Linked DNA regions of Homo sapiens. The protein of the gene in region 1 interacts with the protein of each later gene in a pairwise test. Each region holds a gene or a part of one and is shown on either strand. Other genes may lie near its edges.

Region 1 (3,830 bases):
ATCAAACTGAAATTCACCAGATTATCACATCCAGACAATGAGGCCAGGCCCCTCATTCATCATGATTGCTTCCTGAGTTCCTGTTTTCCCACACAGTTACATTTCTTCCCTGCTATATAAACCCCTAATTTTAGTGGGTCAGGGAGATGGAGTTGAGACTAATCTCTCATCTTCTTGGCTACAGCTCCCAATTAAAGGCTTCTTCCCTGGCAATACTTGTTGTCTCCCTGTTTGGCTTTCTGTGTGGCTACCAGGAGGACCTAGGCCAAACCCCTGGTGCTTCAGTAACAGATTTTTGTGGCTGGGTTGCTGTGGTCTAGGAGTCTCAGAAGCCCTCCTAAGCAACTGCCCACCCAATTTTGGCTGGAAGTGAGTTTTGGTCTCTCTGGCCCTGCTGCTGCCAGCCCCAGCTGAGTTCCTGATTGCTAGGAAGAACAGCCTTTGAAATGTGACACTGGCATCTGGATAAGTGAGTGTCCTTTCTTGGCCCAGACAGCAAGATCTGCTCAATTTGAAAATTTTAAAAGGAGCTTCCATTTGCAGGTTAAACCAGCCCAACTGACTAAGAAAGGGAAGCACCCTGACTCTCAGTATGATACTCTAGAGAGCGTGTTTGTAATTTCTGTGTTTGTGTCTGGCCAAGTTAGTGTCTTTTTTGGGTACCAGACAGTGGGATCGGCTTCTCTCAATTTGGAAAATTCCTAAGAAATTTCTGTTTGCAGGTTAATAAAGCCCGATTGAGAGAGAAAAGCACCTCGACTGTTTCAGTTTGGACACTGTTCGGGCTTGTCTATTGCTTCAGCAGTCGGATTGTGTTTTGTTGATTGTATGTGTCAATATAGTAATGGGAAATTAGAATTCAACAAACAAATATTCTTTTGTACTACGTTTGCCCCAATATTCTTTGGAATCTGGAGTTGGCTGTTGAATGGGAAAGCCAGGTGGAGTCCCATGTATTCTGGCTTTTATGCCGCTGTTTTAAGCAGGGTTGGGCCTGGTGAGTAGTTTCCACATGACGTTCTTCTGTAGTGCTGTTTGGCCCCAGGTTTCTTTGGAATCTAGCTTCTAAAAATCAAACTGCCATGGAAACTGCTTTACCCAAAATTCTGGTTCACAGCCTTCATTGGATTACCGATTGGAGCAAACAAATTTTAGCCATGTGGACTTGGTTGTAGATTCGTGAGTTTGTATTGCTATCTCATGGCTAGAGTTCCAAGGTAAAAGCTGTTGGATCTTTGTGTGTGTATACATGTTTAGATGTGTTTATCTAGATGTACATTAACTATGTTATACACTATACCTACCAAATTGGCTTATAAATAAGAGTGCTCATAAATTAAGTCCAAAGTGTTTTTCAAGTTCACATGACTTCAGTAAATCTTTAATAAACAAGCTGTCTTTAAAATTATTGGTAAAATAAAAATAGAAATGTCTTCAGAATTGTCAGCATACATTTTTGTCTCGGCTTTATATTTGTCTCAGCTAGATAATTTGAGGTATCAGAGTTTGGCAGCAGGTTATAAAGCTATAAACCCAGTGAATATTTGTGTGAATTCTTTATAAGACTAATTTAATGCTGTTAGTTTAATGAAAACAGCTGAATCTTCTGAGTTATTGATCAAAATGCCCACGTATTAATTTTAAGGTTATTTAGGTGAACACCTGACATTCACAGGTTATAAAATGGTTAAGAAGGAAATGATGCAGAAATAATCTAGATAAACTGCTAAAAATAAATAAAATGTAAATGGTCAAATGCTGTAAATGAACTTTTGGCATAATCGGAAATATAATCATTGGATGTTTGAGTCATTTCCAATTAAGAAAAGGTTATGATGTGGGGAACATGTTTCTAAAAATTGTGGAATGGTTCTCATCTATAAAATACTAATATCTGCTAGGCAGCTCAAGATTTCTTGCTTCCTAGGTTTTTACTGAAATTTAAGGTTGTTACTAAGGATAAGAATTCTAGTTCATATGTAATTCTATATATAAAATGTGCAAAAGACAATGTGTTTTTATTCAGAAAAAAATTTTATCTAACTCAGAAGTTATCTAAAGTTTATTAATAATTATGGACTTGAAAGGTTACTTATGAAACAAGGTAGAAAAGAACAAGTAGACGAGAGAGATGTGGAGAAAGTTATGAGTATAAAGATGTATTTTTGGTAAGGAAGGTTATAAAGAAAATAATTTTGTATGACAAAGCATCTTATAATGGTATTTTTTTTGTCCTAAAGTAAAATGACTGTTTAAAAAAAAAAAAAGAAGAAGAAAAAGAACGAAAATCCAGGACAAATCAGAAAGTCTAAGCATATCATAGATGGTGTGTGTAAGTCATGTAGTTTCTTTCCTATTTCTTTGTGTGTCTACCTTTATGTACAGACAGAGAAAATACAAAGTATAAAAGGCTTAAATAATATTCTCTTAAAACCAGATAGAATATTGGAGAAATCTGGCTAATTAACACTGCTCATAGTTAAAGCTCTTAGTCTTGATGAAAGTAAAATAAGAAATATTGTAAAGAAACACATTGGCAGTTTGGCAATCCTTTCTTAATATAGTTAACCATGAAGCCAGATAAAAGCCAGATATAGCAACAACCAAATTTCACCTACATGCTTGCATTGCTTCACACTGTATTTGCTCTTCTGCATAGATATACTATCATTACAGTATAATACTTACTGGTCGGCCTCCTCCAGAGTAGCTGGGATTATAGTTGTGTGCCATCATGCCTGGCCAATTTTTGTATTTTTAGTAGAGATGGGGTTTTACCATGTTGGCCAGGCTGGTCTCAAACTCCTGGCCTCAAGTGATTCACCCATCTTGGCCTCCCAAAGTGCTGAGATTACAGGCCTGAGCCACCACGCCCAGCCTAAAGTGAATTTCTTAATTGCACAAAATATATAGTGGTATTGGTGAACTTAAAGACATTAAATTGTGCATCAGGAACAAAATATTCATCATGTGTTTTTTTGGCTCTGGGTAACACTATAGCCTCCAAGTTAAACTGAGTAGAAAATTTTCAGGTTGGTTTCCTGTTTGTTTTTTCTTTTAATTTGCATTTATTTGCTGTTTCTTCTTCTTTAGGTTTTACTTATATATACATATTAATAAAACCATTGATGGCTTTTAGTTTCTAATGTAAGGAAGGCTTTTATTTGGTTCCATGAATAATCATTTTGTTTCCTATGCATTTCCAGTATCTCATCATTTGCTCTACTTATCCAAAGTTCCTAAGCTACCTTTTTCAAGCTTCCAAAAATTGTTGGTGGACACCAGCCTTTAAAATTTGTTTGGTTTTGCTTACCTCTAATGAACTAGAGAGCTATAAGAACTTTAAGATTCCTGGCAAAAAATAATAAAAGGTTTATTCTTCTAAGTTCTGAACAGAAATAGTACATTATTATTGGTTATTTGGAAAAGTAGGTGAGAGAAATGTTTAAGTGGTGTTTATTTCCAAGGTAATTCAATTCAATAAACAATAGCGGTTTCAGATCTTTTCCTTTAATGAGGCAAAACTGCTATATGGGTACAAAGTCTTAATATTCAGAAAAAAATTGGCTTTGTCTTTAAGGAAATTATATTGATTGGGCTTTCTCTCAAACTAATTTAGTTGTGTTTACTATTATTAAGATTAAATAACATTTACTTGGATTAAGTCATAAAAAAAATTATAAGACTTTCTAGTGTTTTTTTTATCCTAAGCCATTTATCACTGATGGGCCTTCACATGTATACTTGAAAACAAAATATGTACATACAAGTGTTATGCCAGTTTGAAGATTCTAGTGGTGTAAGTCACTTAAATCAGTTGTCAGTACTTT
Region 2 (3,830 bases), on another chromosome or scaffold:
CCAGAGTGCCCTTTCTAAATCAAAGATCAGAGAAATACATCTCCTGCTTAAGAAAAAAGCCTGCCTTGGCTCAGCAGTACAGCTGCGTACATCCCCCATTCCCAGCATGGTGCTGAGAACCTGCACCATCAGGCTCCAGCATCTCCCACCGGGTCCACTTTCCTTCCCATCTCCCTGGACACCCCACTCTCCAGCCACCCAATACAGCCCCTGCAGTCTCCCACATGTGTGCCTTTGCACACGCTGTGCTCTGTGCTGGAAAGCACTTCCCCTTGATCTACGTGGAGTAATCCTAGTGACTTTTGAGTCAGCACAAGGCCACTTCCTCTATGAAACCTTCCCTGGAGATGCTTTCCTTTGTCCTCCACAGAATTCTGATGGCCTTTTGCTAGAGCACCTGGATACTTTTACCACACGAATTATTACCATGTCTACATCCCCCCCTCCACACTGAGAACTCCTTGTTGGCAAGGGCCAAGAATCACTCATCCTTGTGTGCCCAGGTCCTACAGTGCCCGGCACACAGTAGGCATTTAATAAGTATTACTGGATGGATGACTGAATGTTTCCTAAAAAACTATTCTGTAAGCCTAGAAAAATGCCTCAAGCTATCTTGTTTTTAAGGAAACATTAAGAGTCAAGTCATTAAATGTGTTCTATAACGACCATGTCACTGATGTTTTGTACAGTCAAACGACACCCCATGGTACAGGAGTGCTCCAAACCAAGCAGACGTGGCTGAACGTGGCGAGAGTCATGAATAACACTGTGCTTTCCAAGGGAGTGTTTCCAGGGTAAGCAGAAGCTGGACTATGTCAAACTCTATACTAATGTTTTGACAGGGTCCATTCAACTAACACAGCTCAAAGGTACATTTATGTGTTTATGTGGTTAGCCAGTCAGCTGCCAGTTTTCTGCTTTGGAGAATCTTACCAGTTCTGCAGCTGATCCAAGCAAGCATTGGGCGGCCCCCCAATACAGGCGCTCTGCTGTCTCCGCTTCCACTCCACTAGTTCATCATTAATCAGGGCATTCTGGGTAAGTTCAGTGACATTCAGCAACTCTATTATTTTGTGAACTACTTCCTAAAGGCAATAGAAGAAACAAAGTGAAATAAATTCATTTTTAATCACTGAATTTTAAAATATTTTTTAAAAGAAAAGCAAATATCATTTCATTCTCAACTGGGGCTCTAAGCCAGGTGGCTATAATTTTTCCTCTCTTCTAAACTTTGAGTCCATTATTTACAGTGTATAACAAAAGTGGCATGCTATTCTGGAAAGTAAATAACTACCTTTCTCTTATTGTCAAGCATTAAATACATCTTCTTGAGTAACAGCTGTTCTTGTTTCTGATCACTCTTTGCCACACCATTGGTCTCGTGTTCTATAAATTGAGAGACAGCCAGTAAATATATAAAGAAGACAAAACCAACAAAAGCCAAGATTCATATAAATTTAGGATAAATATGACACAAATGCTGCCTAGTGACAGGTCAAAGTTTGGCTTTCTTCGATCTTTAATGAACATGAAAAAAAGTCCTAAGTATAACAACTAGACACACTGAAACAAAATACTTGTTTTCAAAAATTAGCCGGGCGCAGTGGCAGACGCCTGTAGTCCCAGCTACTCGGGAGGCTGAGGCAGGAGAACAGCATGAACCCGGGAGGCGGAGCTTGGAGTGAGCCGAGATCTCGCCACTGCACTCTAGCCTGGGCGACAGAGCGAGACTCCGTCTCCAAAAAAAAACAAAAAAAACAAAAAAAAAACAAAAAAAACTTGTTTTCAGTGACCCATGTAAATCAGACATAGTAGTATCTGCCACTTAAGACACTGTCAGGTAATTACCTAAATAAATGTAAATAACATTAATAATAATGTTATTATTATTATAAAAATAAATGTAAATAATAAAATGTTTTATCTGAACAGAATTCAGATAAAAAATGTATACAAAGCATAGCTGTAGCTTTCAAAGAGAAGTAGATGAGTAGGAAGTGGTAGTTGAAGTTGCTGTCTCTTATACTTTCTACCCAAATCATACTGATAATCTCTGCCTATGAACCATGGTATACCCCAGATGATGAATAGAGTAACAGCAGTACCCTACGTGTCCTACACAATGTACATTCTTGAGATCTTTTCTGTTGCTACTCTCATTAAAAACACGCAACAGTAAGAAAATACAGTAAAACTGCTTTAAAACATGAGAAAAATACTGAGCTTATCTGCTGTGTATACACGTGGCCCTGCAACGTTTGAAGAAACCTGAGATATTAGGGCAGGGGAACTCCACATATCTATCGCTCTGTGTCAGTCAGTGGGCTAGGCGCAATAAATATGGTGAGTAACACATAACCAGTGGTTATCAAGTAGGGGTCACTGACCCCTAGGGGACTTTTGGCAATCTCTGGAGACAGTTTTGGTTGTCACTAGTGAGGGCTCCTGGGTAGTGCTACTGGCATCTGGTGGGTAAAAGTCGGGGATGCTGTTAAACACGCTACAATGCCAGGACAGCCCCAACAACAAATTAGCCCGAAATGTCAATAATATTGGATGTTGAGAAGCCCTGGCCTGGGTTATCAAGGAAGAATTCAGAGTCATAAAATACTCGGCAAATAGAAAGGAGTAATCATCTTCGTTATCTAGTGTGAACAGAAAAAATTGCAGCCAACGGGCACCACTTCAGTTGTGAACCCTTACCTCTGTTCTGCAAGGTTTTGCATTTGAAGTCATATTCATCTTGTAAATCTTCCAGGCTCTTGATTTCATGCTCTATACACTACAAACAAAGATGTAAACATGTTTTCTACTGATCAGCAACTTCCAAAGACTTTAGGCAACAGAGTATTGCTTCTATGGAACCCAGAGAAACACGAAAACAATTCCATCTCCCCCAAAAAGAGATCTGACTTGGACAGTTCTAATCATATACATGAAATAATTTCGGTTTCATTAATAAGTATGTCATAACATTTTTAAAAAAGCAAACGTACAATAATTCTCAAACTGATTTGTATGTCCTTAACCTGGTTCCAGCGCCTAAATTTTGATTCTTCCTCATCATTTTTGAGACTACCTCTGAGATATGATTTAAGAACTCCACTGTGAAGCCCACAGCAGGCGGGGAAAAAGCTCACAGAAAATTTCCTCATTCCTTCCAAGTAAGAAAAGTGACCATACATCCCTGCTTTACCGGGATAGACCTGGTTTCATACTTGCTGTAATTATAAACAGTGCCCTCTTGGCGGCTCAAATGCATCTCCATCTGGACAATAAATTGTATGTTCATTCTACAAATAAGCCTCATTTGTTTGGGATTTGGTCACATTTCCACATATTCTTCTCTGGATTTCCATGGCTATTTCTGGACTGGGCTCACTCGGTTTCTACTTTAATGAAATGTTTCCCTAGGAGACCGCAAGATGAAGTTGCTCCAAAGAATGTGGAGTTTGGAAAGATGCTGTCTGAAGCATGTAAGTCAAGGCCATACTGCTATTACCCAGAGATCCACAGAGGACCAAACCCCTAAGCTGGAAGGCCTTTTCCACAAACACAGGCCTCTGTGAAAAAGAACTCCTCAAACCCTCCCCACACCAGCCCTAACAGTGGAGAGGAGTAAATGCGCACCATCGAGGACGCCAGAGCAGCCCTCTGCTTCCATAAATTGACTTGGAAGTTGTATCCTAAAATTGCTGTGGATGTCTTAATCAGAAATGTATCCAAATTTCTTTCAATAAAATGTATTTTTGTTCCTCTTCCAAGTCTTAGGATAAAACAGATGACTGGGAAGGATGGGCCATGTTTATCCTGGGGCACTGTGATTTGAG

Evidence for each region.
Region 2: the proteins of RIGI (region 1) and STAT1 interact in binary tests that used the Homo sapiens proteins (3 or more experiments, as listed by UniProt).

What each region holds. Positions count from the first base shown.
Region 1 is NC_000009.12:32,516,131-32,519,960, forward strand, and holds part of RIGI (antiviral innate immune response receptor RIG-I), read right to left. Parts: intron 1-3,830.
Region 2 is NC_000002.12:190,996,923-191,000,752, forward strand, and holds part of STAT1 (signal transducer and activator of transcription 1-alpha/beta), read right to left. Parts: intron 2,783-3,830; coding exon 2,704-2,782; intron 1,387-2,703; coding exon 1,295-1,386; intron 1,086-1,294; coding exon 934-1,085; intron 1-933. UniProt on the Homo sapiens protein: Signal transducer and transcription activator that mediates cellular responses to interferons (IFNs), cytokine KITLG/SCF and other cytokines and other growth factors.